Linked DNA regions of Homo sapiens. The protein of the gene in region 1 interacts with the protein of each later gene in a pairwise test. Each region holds a gene or a part of one and is shown on either strand. Other genes may lie near its edges. The genes, in order: POMP and ECT2.

Region 1 (3,827 bases):
TAATGGGAGAAATGAAAATTGGTTATAGATGGATACATATTCCACTTTTGTATAAAGGATCTAACTAAAAAATAAGATTGTCTGTGGTAACATTGATCCCTGAAACTGTTTCTTAAGTGGACTATTGAGTGAGCTGTGAGCATTTAATAGGGTAAGCAGTGATCATCAGCATCTGAATGAACTCAGCAAATTAATTTTAGTTCACTCTTTTACTCAGTTGCCAAATGGGTCAGTCAAGGGATCAAATTATCTGACAAGGGATAAGATTGAGGATTACATGGTGGATTATTAACCGAGTGAAAGTAGTGTAGGGTAAAGTATATGAGGTTGGTAACTGTACCCAGAGAACGGTGATTAGGGAATAGTCAATTTGGAGGGAATATTTTGATAGGGCTTTTTGGCCTCTGTCTACATCTTAGGTAGTCAGGTGGACACATAGGAAGGATAAGTATTTTTCAAGGACTTGTGGGCAACCAAAGAAAGAATGTATATTAGGTTTTTGGAAAAAAGGTTGAGAAGGATAGTTCATTCTGTTGAATAATTGAACTATATCATGGTGATAAAATAGACCAAAGTCTAGACCAAAATTTAAGGAAAACATTTATAGAGGTGAGTGTGAAGTTCTGCGTTTGGATTCAAAAAATGAATTCTACACCTTTGGGCAGGGTAAAGTGACTTGCTCTGTAAAACTTGACTATTTTAATTGACTGTATACTCACTATAAGCCAGCAGATTACGTTAGTTACTAAAAAGAAAGGTTAATGCAGTCTTGGGCTTTGTTAATAAGATGGGGCTCAAATCAAGGGAGATTATATTATTTTCCTGTGTATTAGTCTGGCTATTAGATTTGGAATATTGGTTTAGTTCTAAGCAATACATATTAAGAGAAACTGACAAATCTGAGTGAGACTAGGTGGAACTGTGAAGAATCTAAAAACTTCAGAGATCTTTTTGAGACTTACATACATCTACTGCATCTCTTCTTCTTTAATCATTTAGCCAGCTAATGGCAGTCTCACTCTTTATGTGACTCTTACTGTCTATTATAAATCCTTCAGCATGGATTGTGTAGTTGAACTATGTGGGCACCCCACTTTGCTAAGTAAACTTGGGGCATATTGCTTAATTTTCTTTAAGCCTTAGTCTTCTCATCTGGAGTTAGTAATAGCCCATCCTTGGCATATTGCTGGCCTCTAGTAGCTCTGCATGATTGGGAGCTTCAGTGGTGATAGTGATGGAAGATGGCCATCATCATTTGTACCAGTGGTTCTCAACTAGGGGAGGATCATCCTCCTGCCCCCTACAAGGGAACAGTTGGCAAAGTCTGAGGACATTTTAGGTTGTCACAAGTGGTGCGGTGGGGGATGGGGGGATGTAATATTGGCATCTATGGGGTAGAGGCCAGGGATGCTGCCAAACATCCTACAGTACACAGGACAGCCTGCCACAGTGAAGAATTATCTGGCCCAAGAAATCAGTAGTGCGGAGGGTTGAGATACATACATAATGTCTTCCAAACTGGATTATAATCTCCAAGGTAGGCTGTTCAGTTTTGTTGTGTGTTGCCACAGAGCCTAATTTTGCACACGGTTGCTAACTTACATGTTGATTGATAATTACAGTATTAATATCACATTACAAGATGGCTGTATTCATCAAAATTTACATAAATTGAGTTATTATACATAAAATTACATTTACTGCTGGGTGTGGTGGGGTGTGCCTGTAGTCCCAGCGGCGTGGGAGGCTGAGGCGGGGGATTGCTTGAGCCTGGTAATTCGAGGCTGTAGTGCTCTATAATCGTGCCTGTGAATAGCCACTGCACTCCAGCCACATAGCAAGACCCGTCTCTTAGAATAAAATTGTATTATCATGAGGATAAGCCAATATTTAAAGCAAACCCTTCACTTAGAACTTCAGATCATATACCCATAATAAAATACTGCAGGTTTTCCCTAAGGACCATCTGTCAAAATTTGCTGTGTAAAGCTAAAGTAATTAAAAAGCATTTGGTTAGTCACCTTACTTTCAAACTTCATAGTCATATCCCAAGTAGGTGCTAATCTCTCAATAGATTTTTGTTCAAAATGACCTTTTTGATTACTATTAGAAGACAATGTTATCAAGAGAGTAGCGTGTAATAAAAAATGACAAGAAATGACTTTACCTCATTATAATCACCTTAGCTCAGACAAATCTTTGTAACAGTCTGTTTGCATATTACATTCACTATCCTTAGGAGCCATTTTTGGAAACTGTTTTAGAATCCATGAGTCAAGTCGATTCATTTTGCCTGAAATACATTAAGTTATGGCCAAAGTTCCCTAAATGTAATATCAGTACTTAGTGAAAGTATGATCCAGGAAAAATTGCTGATTAGTACCCAATACAAATTGAATAAACTTTTGAGAGATGTTTGTTTTTCCCCTGAGGCAAGTACCAAAAATAAGTGGAGTTTAAACATAGTTTAATTAACAGGATGATTTAGTGGTCAGATTATTTCTTTTGCTGAATCCTTTTAAATATATGCCTTCATACTTAGAAATTAACTATTTTTGTCAGTGGATGTGACATTTTCTGGATCTCAAATTACACCTTTGCTAGTTTTGCAGTACTTTTAATCAAAAGCGCTAAAATATGATTGTCTTGTAAATCTACTTTTGAATAGGAGACACATTCCTTTACTTTTATAAATTTGGAATTTTGGTAGTAATTTTACTCTGGTAAAAGTACACCTGCATGCTAAATGAAATATAGACATATGTGGTCTAAAATTTGTCAGAAAAAATTAGTAAAAATACTTAGTTTTTATTACAGGTATGGATATTAAAATTCTTCATCTAACTATTGTGTTATATATATGCCACTGCTAACTGTTTTGAAAGCAGAGTATTGAGTGTAATGTTTAAAATTACATTGTCTTTTGTAGTTCCAGCTCAACCAAGATAAAATGAATTTTTCCACACTGAGAAACATTCAGGGTCTATTTGCTCCGCTAAAATTACAGATGGAATTCAAGGCAGTGCAGCAGGTGAGTTGATGGATCTCTGTTGCATATGTGTCGATATCATTCATGAGGAATCTTCTGTTTTCATAACAGCTATTTATACCTTATCTACCTTACAACCTATTCTACTTCCCTCCCCCTTTTTAGGGTATGACCTTGATTTCTACTTCATAGAGGGAAAAAAGAAGTCATTAAATGGAAAACTTCAAATTACAGGCTCAGTGTCTGAAAACTTACCTGCATCTGCTTTCATGTTTTTCTGGGTTTTTTTTTTATGTATTACATTGAATTTGAGATCCCTCTAAGAATATCCAAGTGGAGGTGTCAAGTATACAATTTGTATATAGTTGAATATACCTGTTTCTAAGGAATAAGTACTTGGAAAATGTCCTTCCAATTATGTAAGAACCACCCTCCTACCTGTGCTTTGGATTCTATCCTGTTACATTACTTCAGGAAAATCCCTTTATCAATGATGCCTTCTCAAGCTGATATCTTTAACCCCTCTCTGCTTGCTCTGTCTCAGCAGTAGCATTTGAACCGCTGTTGTCTTTTAAAACAAAAAAAAATTGTATCAATTTCAAATTCCTTTATAGTAACTTGTCTCTCATTGAGTGTGCTTTTGCTTCTTGAAAAGTTGTCTACATTTGCTTTCTATACTCCTTTCCCTGCTATTTATTTAACCCACTGTTTCTGTCTCCCATGACACCAATGAAACTGCTCCTGAACAATGTGGACATTTTTACCTTCACTTTACTTCATCTCCCTGTAGTATTTGACACTAATAATGGCTTCTTCCTTTTTCCCTTGGCTTTTATGT
Region 2 (3,827 bases), on another chromosome or scaffold:
TAATTTTTATTTCTGCTAACTATATGATGAAAAGGACATTAAAGTGGGCTTTGTAAAGATGGAGTCAGTGGAAGAATTTGAAGGTTTGGATTCTCCGGAATTTGAAAATGTATTTGTAGTCACGGACTTTCAGGATTCTGTCTTTAATGACCTCTACAAGGCTGATTGTAGAGTTATTGGACCACCAGTTGTATTAAATTGTTCACAAAAAGGAGAGGTAAGCATATACATTTATTATGACTTTTCAAGTTAAAATTTTTATTAATGAATTTTAATTAGCAAAAAATTTATTTGGAAAAATCTCATTGATTGCTGAGAGCAAAATATTTAGAATAGGAATAATAGTGGCTATTCTAATGTGGTCCTTTAATTCCTCCATTTTAAACTTAGTGGTGAAAAGCTAAGGCCTTTGAAAGTTAAATAATGATAACTGTACATATGCATATACACAGACAAATACATAGTCCTTTTTTTTTTTTTTTTTTTGAGACGGAGTCTTGCTCTGTGCCCAGGCTGGAGTGCAGTGGCACGATCTCAGCTCACTGCAAGCTCCGCCTCCTGGGTTCACGCCATTCTCCTGCCTCAGCCTCCCCAGTAGCTGGGACTACAGGTGCCCGCCACCATGCTCAGCTACTTTGTTGTATTTTTAGTAGAGATGGCGTTTCACCATGTTAGCCAGGATGGTCTTGATCTCCTGACCTCGTGATCCACCCGCTTCGGACTCTCAAAGTTCTGGGATTACAGGCGTGAGCCACTGCGCCTGGCGTATACACTATCAATACCACAATGTCTTAGAGAAGATTACTTGCTTAAACTTGGGTTCCAGAAATTCATACATATACATAAACTTTTATTTTTCTCAACACAGAACAGATACCACGGTTCCATTTTTATCAGTTACTGTATAACTTAAAATTCAAAAATTATTTTAGCTTTTTGTATTTATTTATTTATTTAATAAATAAATACACGATCTCTGCTCACTGCAACCTCTGCTTTCCCGGGTTCAAGCGATTCTACTGCCTCAGCCTCTCAAGTAGCTGGGACTGCAGGTGCATGCCACCACGCCTGGCTAAGTTTTTTCTATTTTTAGTAGAGACAGGATTTCACCATGTTGGCCAGGCTGGTCTCGAACTCTTGACCTCACGTTATCTTCCTGCCTCTGCCTCCCAAAGTGTTGAGATTACAGGCATGAGCCACCGTGCCCCGCTTCTTTTTGTTTTTAAACAGCATTTCAATATGAGTCGTATGAGAGTTAGTCCCTATTTGGTTTTGTTGCTGTCTTGGCATTCTTAAGCTTGCCTTGTTTACTTAAAATTGCTTAGGTCTTTGTACTTCTATTGTTACACATGTTAGTAATAATAAGCACATGTTAACCTTTAATTCTCTTACATTTTGATTTGGAGTGGTTGGTTTCAAAACCCAAATAAACTTTAAAAGGCCAAATTTTGAAAAATAATCTTATATAATGATGAAAATCAAATTTATTCTTTTATTATTTTTAAACCGTTCTCTTTTATACACACACACACACACAGACACACACACACACAACCGTTGGGTAAATTATTTACTGAATATCACCATTTATTAGCTTAAAGATTAGAATTATATTTGGTTTAAGTGTGTGTATTATATTTACTCAGTGTTTATTATAAAATGCCTCTGACCTGTTTTAATGACATTAATTAGAATCATCTATAGTAGTGTATGGAGTCTGAAAACTTTGCTTATAGTCAGTACTTCATGTCTGTCAGAGTGCATTTAATATTTGTTTAATTTGCTGAGAGTAAAGTGTGTTTAGATTATGTATATTGCATATGATTAAGGAATCGGGAAATATTTTTATTGGGAAACTTGCAATCTGTCGTTTTGCTGTTTTTTTGTTGCATATTGAAAAAATGCCAGTAAATCTTTGGATTGGGAAAGTTGAATGGCAAGAGGGGAAATGAAATATATTTAGCTTGAGAAAGTTGTGTTGTATTTTCTACTAAAGAGAAAGCTCACATTTAAAATTGTTGTATCCTTCAGCCTTTGCCATTTTCATGTCGCCCGTTGTATTGTACAAGTATGATGAATCTAGTACTATGCTTTACTGGATTTAGGAAAAAAGAAGAACTAGTAAGTATTACGAAACAAATTCAAAGCGTATTTTTTACAGCAAAATAAATTAAAATTGGCTTTTTTTTCTTTTTAGTATTATGGTTTTATTTTTAAAATATTGAAGGATAACTTATTATGGCTATACCAGATTTTAAATTTTCTGAAGAAACAAATCCTGAAGAGCCTTATAAAGAGACCAGTGTTTTGTCTAGGCTGGCTGATGTGAATTAATAGAAAGATTTCATAGCAATTCTGTTTGACTGTCTTGTTACCATATTGGCTACGTTGGTTATTTAAAGTTTTTGTTTATACATTGCAATTTCTTATTATGCAAGTTCAGCCTGAAAGTATTCTGTTGCCCTATAGAATTCATAGAAAGTTCCTTTTTTATTTTTATTTTATTTTTTTTGAGACAAGTCTTGCTCTGTCACCCAGGCTGGAGTGCAGTGGCGCAATCTCGGCTCACTGCAAACTCCGCTTCCCAGGTTCACACCATTCTCTTGCCTCAGCCTCCCGAGGAGCTGGGACTACAGGCGCCCGCCACCACGCCTGGCTAATTTTTTTTTGTATTTTTAGTAGAGATGGGGTTTCACCGTGTTAGCCAGGATGGTCTTGATCTCCTGACCTCGTGATCCGCTTGCCTCGGCCTCCCAAAGTGCTGGGATTACATGCGTGAGCCACCGCGCCCGGCCAGAAAGTTCTTTCTTTGGTTCACAATACTTTGTTGTTGGAACTGATGGGTATTACTCTGATTTTGTGGGAACAGTCTTGATGTGATAAAACTTGGTATTTTTTTAAAAAAACCAATATATTTACACAGTATGGTATTAAAAAGCAATATATTTAGGCCATAGGAAAGGCGGTTGTTTAACTTACATTTGTGTGAAATCTTTACTAATCCCACCTCTATAATTTTGCCTGTGTTAATAGGCAAACTAATCTTTTTTATACTTACTTTGACATAAAATTTAATAGCTTTATAAAAATCCCGTATGTATTTTATAAATAGAAAGTATTTAGCAAATGCTAAATGTGGGGTAAACATAGTTTAAAATTTTGTTCAAATTAACCATAAAGTCAGTGTTGCTTAATTTTTCTTTTGAGGTCAGGTTGGTGACATTGGTCCATCACATGGGTGGAGTTATTCGAAAAGACTTTAATTCAAAAGTTACACATTTGGTGGCAAATTGTACACAAGGAGAAAAATTCAGGGTATGTAAACTTGGGTATTTTTGTGTATTTCAATACAGCATTATTTTGGCATGGGTTTAATAATAGCAGTCTTTTATCTATTTCTTTCACAATTAAAGAAGAGAAACTCAATTTTTGCTATGAATATATTTAGTAAAAAATTTTAAATCATAAGAGTGGTTAAATTTTCTTTCTTTTCTTTTCTTTTCTTTTTTTTTAAATAGAGATGGGGTGTTGCTCTGTTACCCAGGCTGCTTTCGAACTCCTGGGCTTAAGTGATCCTCCTGCCTTGGCCTCCCAAAGTGTTGAGATTACATACGTGAGCCACCAGGCCTGGCCGAGTGGTTAAGTTTTAAGTAGGCAATGGAACTTGAGTGAGGTGTTGAAAGATGACTAGGATCGTGGGGGTTGGTAGATGAATAACATTGTAGGAATTGTGAAAGTAGGGAATTTACTCTTGTCTAAGTGCCTTTTTTTTTTTTTTTTTTTTTTTTTTGAGACTGAGTCTCTCTCTGTCACCCAGGCTGGAGTGC

The links.
Region 2: the proteins of POMP (region 1) and ECT2 interact in a two-hybrid assay, tested with the Homo sapiens proteins (one large-scale study listed by BioGRID).

The regions. Positions count from the first base shown.
Region 1 is NC_000013.11:28,665,544-28,669,370, forward strand, and holds part of POMP (proteasome maturation protein), read left to right. Parts: intron 1-2,929; coding exon 2,930-3,031; intron 3,032-3,827. UniProt on the Homo sapiens protein: Molecular chaperone essential for the assembly of standard proteasomes and immunoproteasomes. Degraded after completion of proteasome maturation. Mediates the association of 20S preproteasome with the endoplasmic reticulum.
Region 2 is NC_000003.12:172,756,949-172,760,775, forward strand, and holds part of ECT2 (protein ECT2), read left to right. Parts: intron 1-34; coding exon 35-217; intron 218-2,031; coding exon 2,032-2,121; intron 2,122-3,207; coding exon 3,208-3,315; intron 3,316-3,827. UniProt on the Homo sapiens protein: Guanine nucleotide exchange factor (GEF) that catalyzes the exchange of GDP for GTP. Promotes guanine nucleotide exchange on the Rho family members of small GTPases, like RHOA, RHOC, RAC1 and CDC42.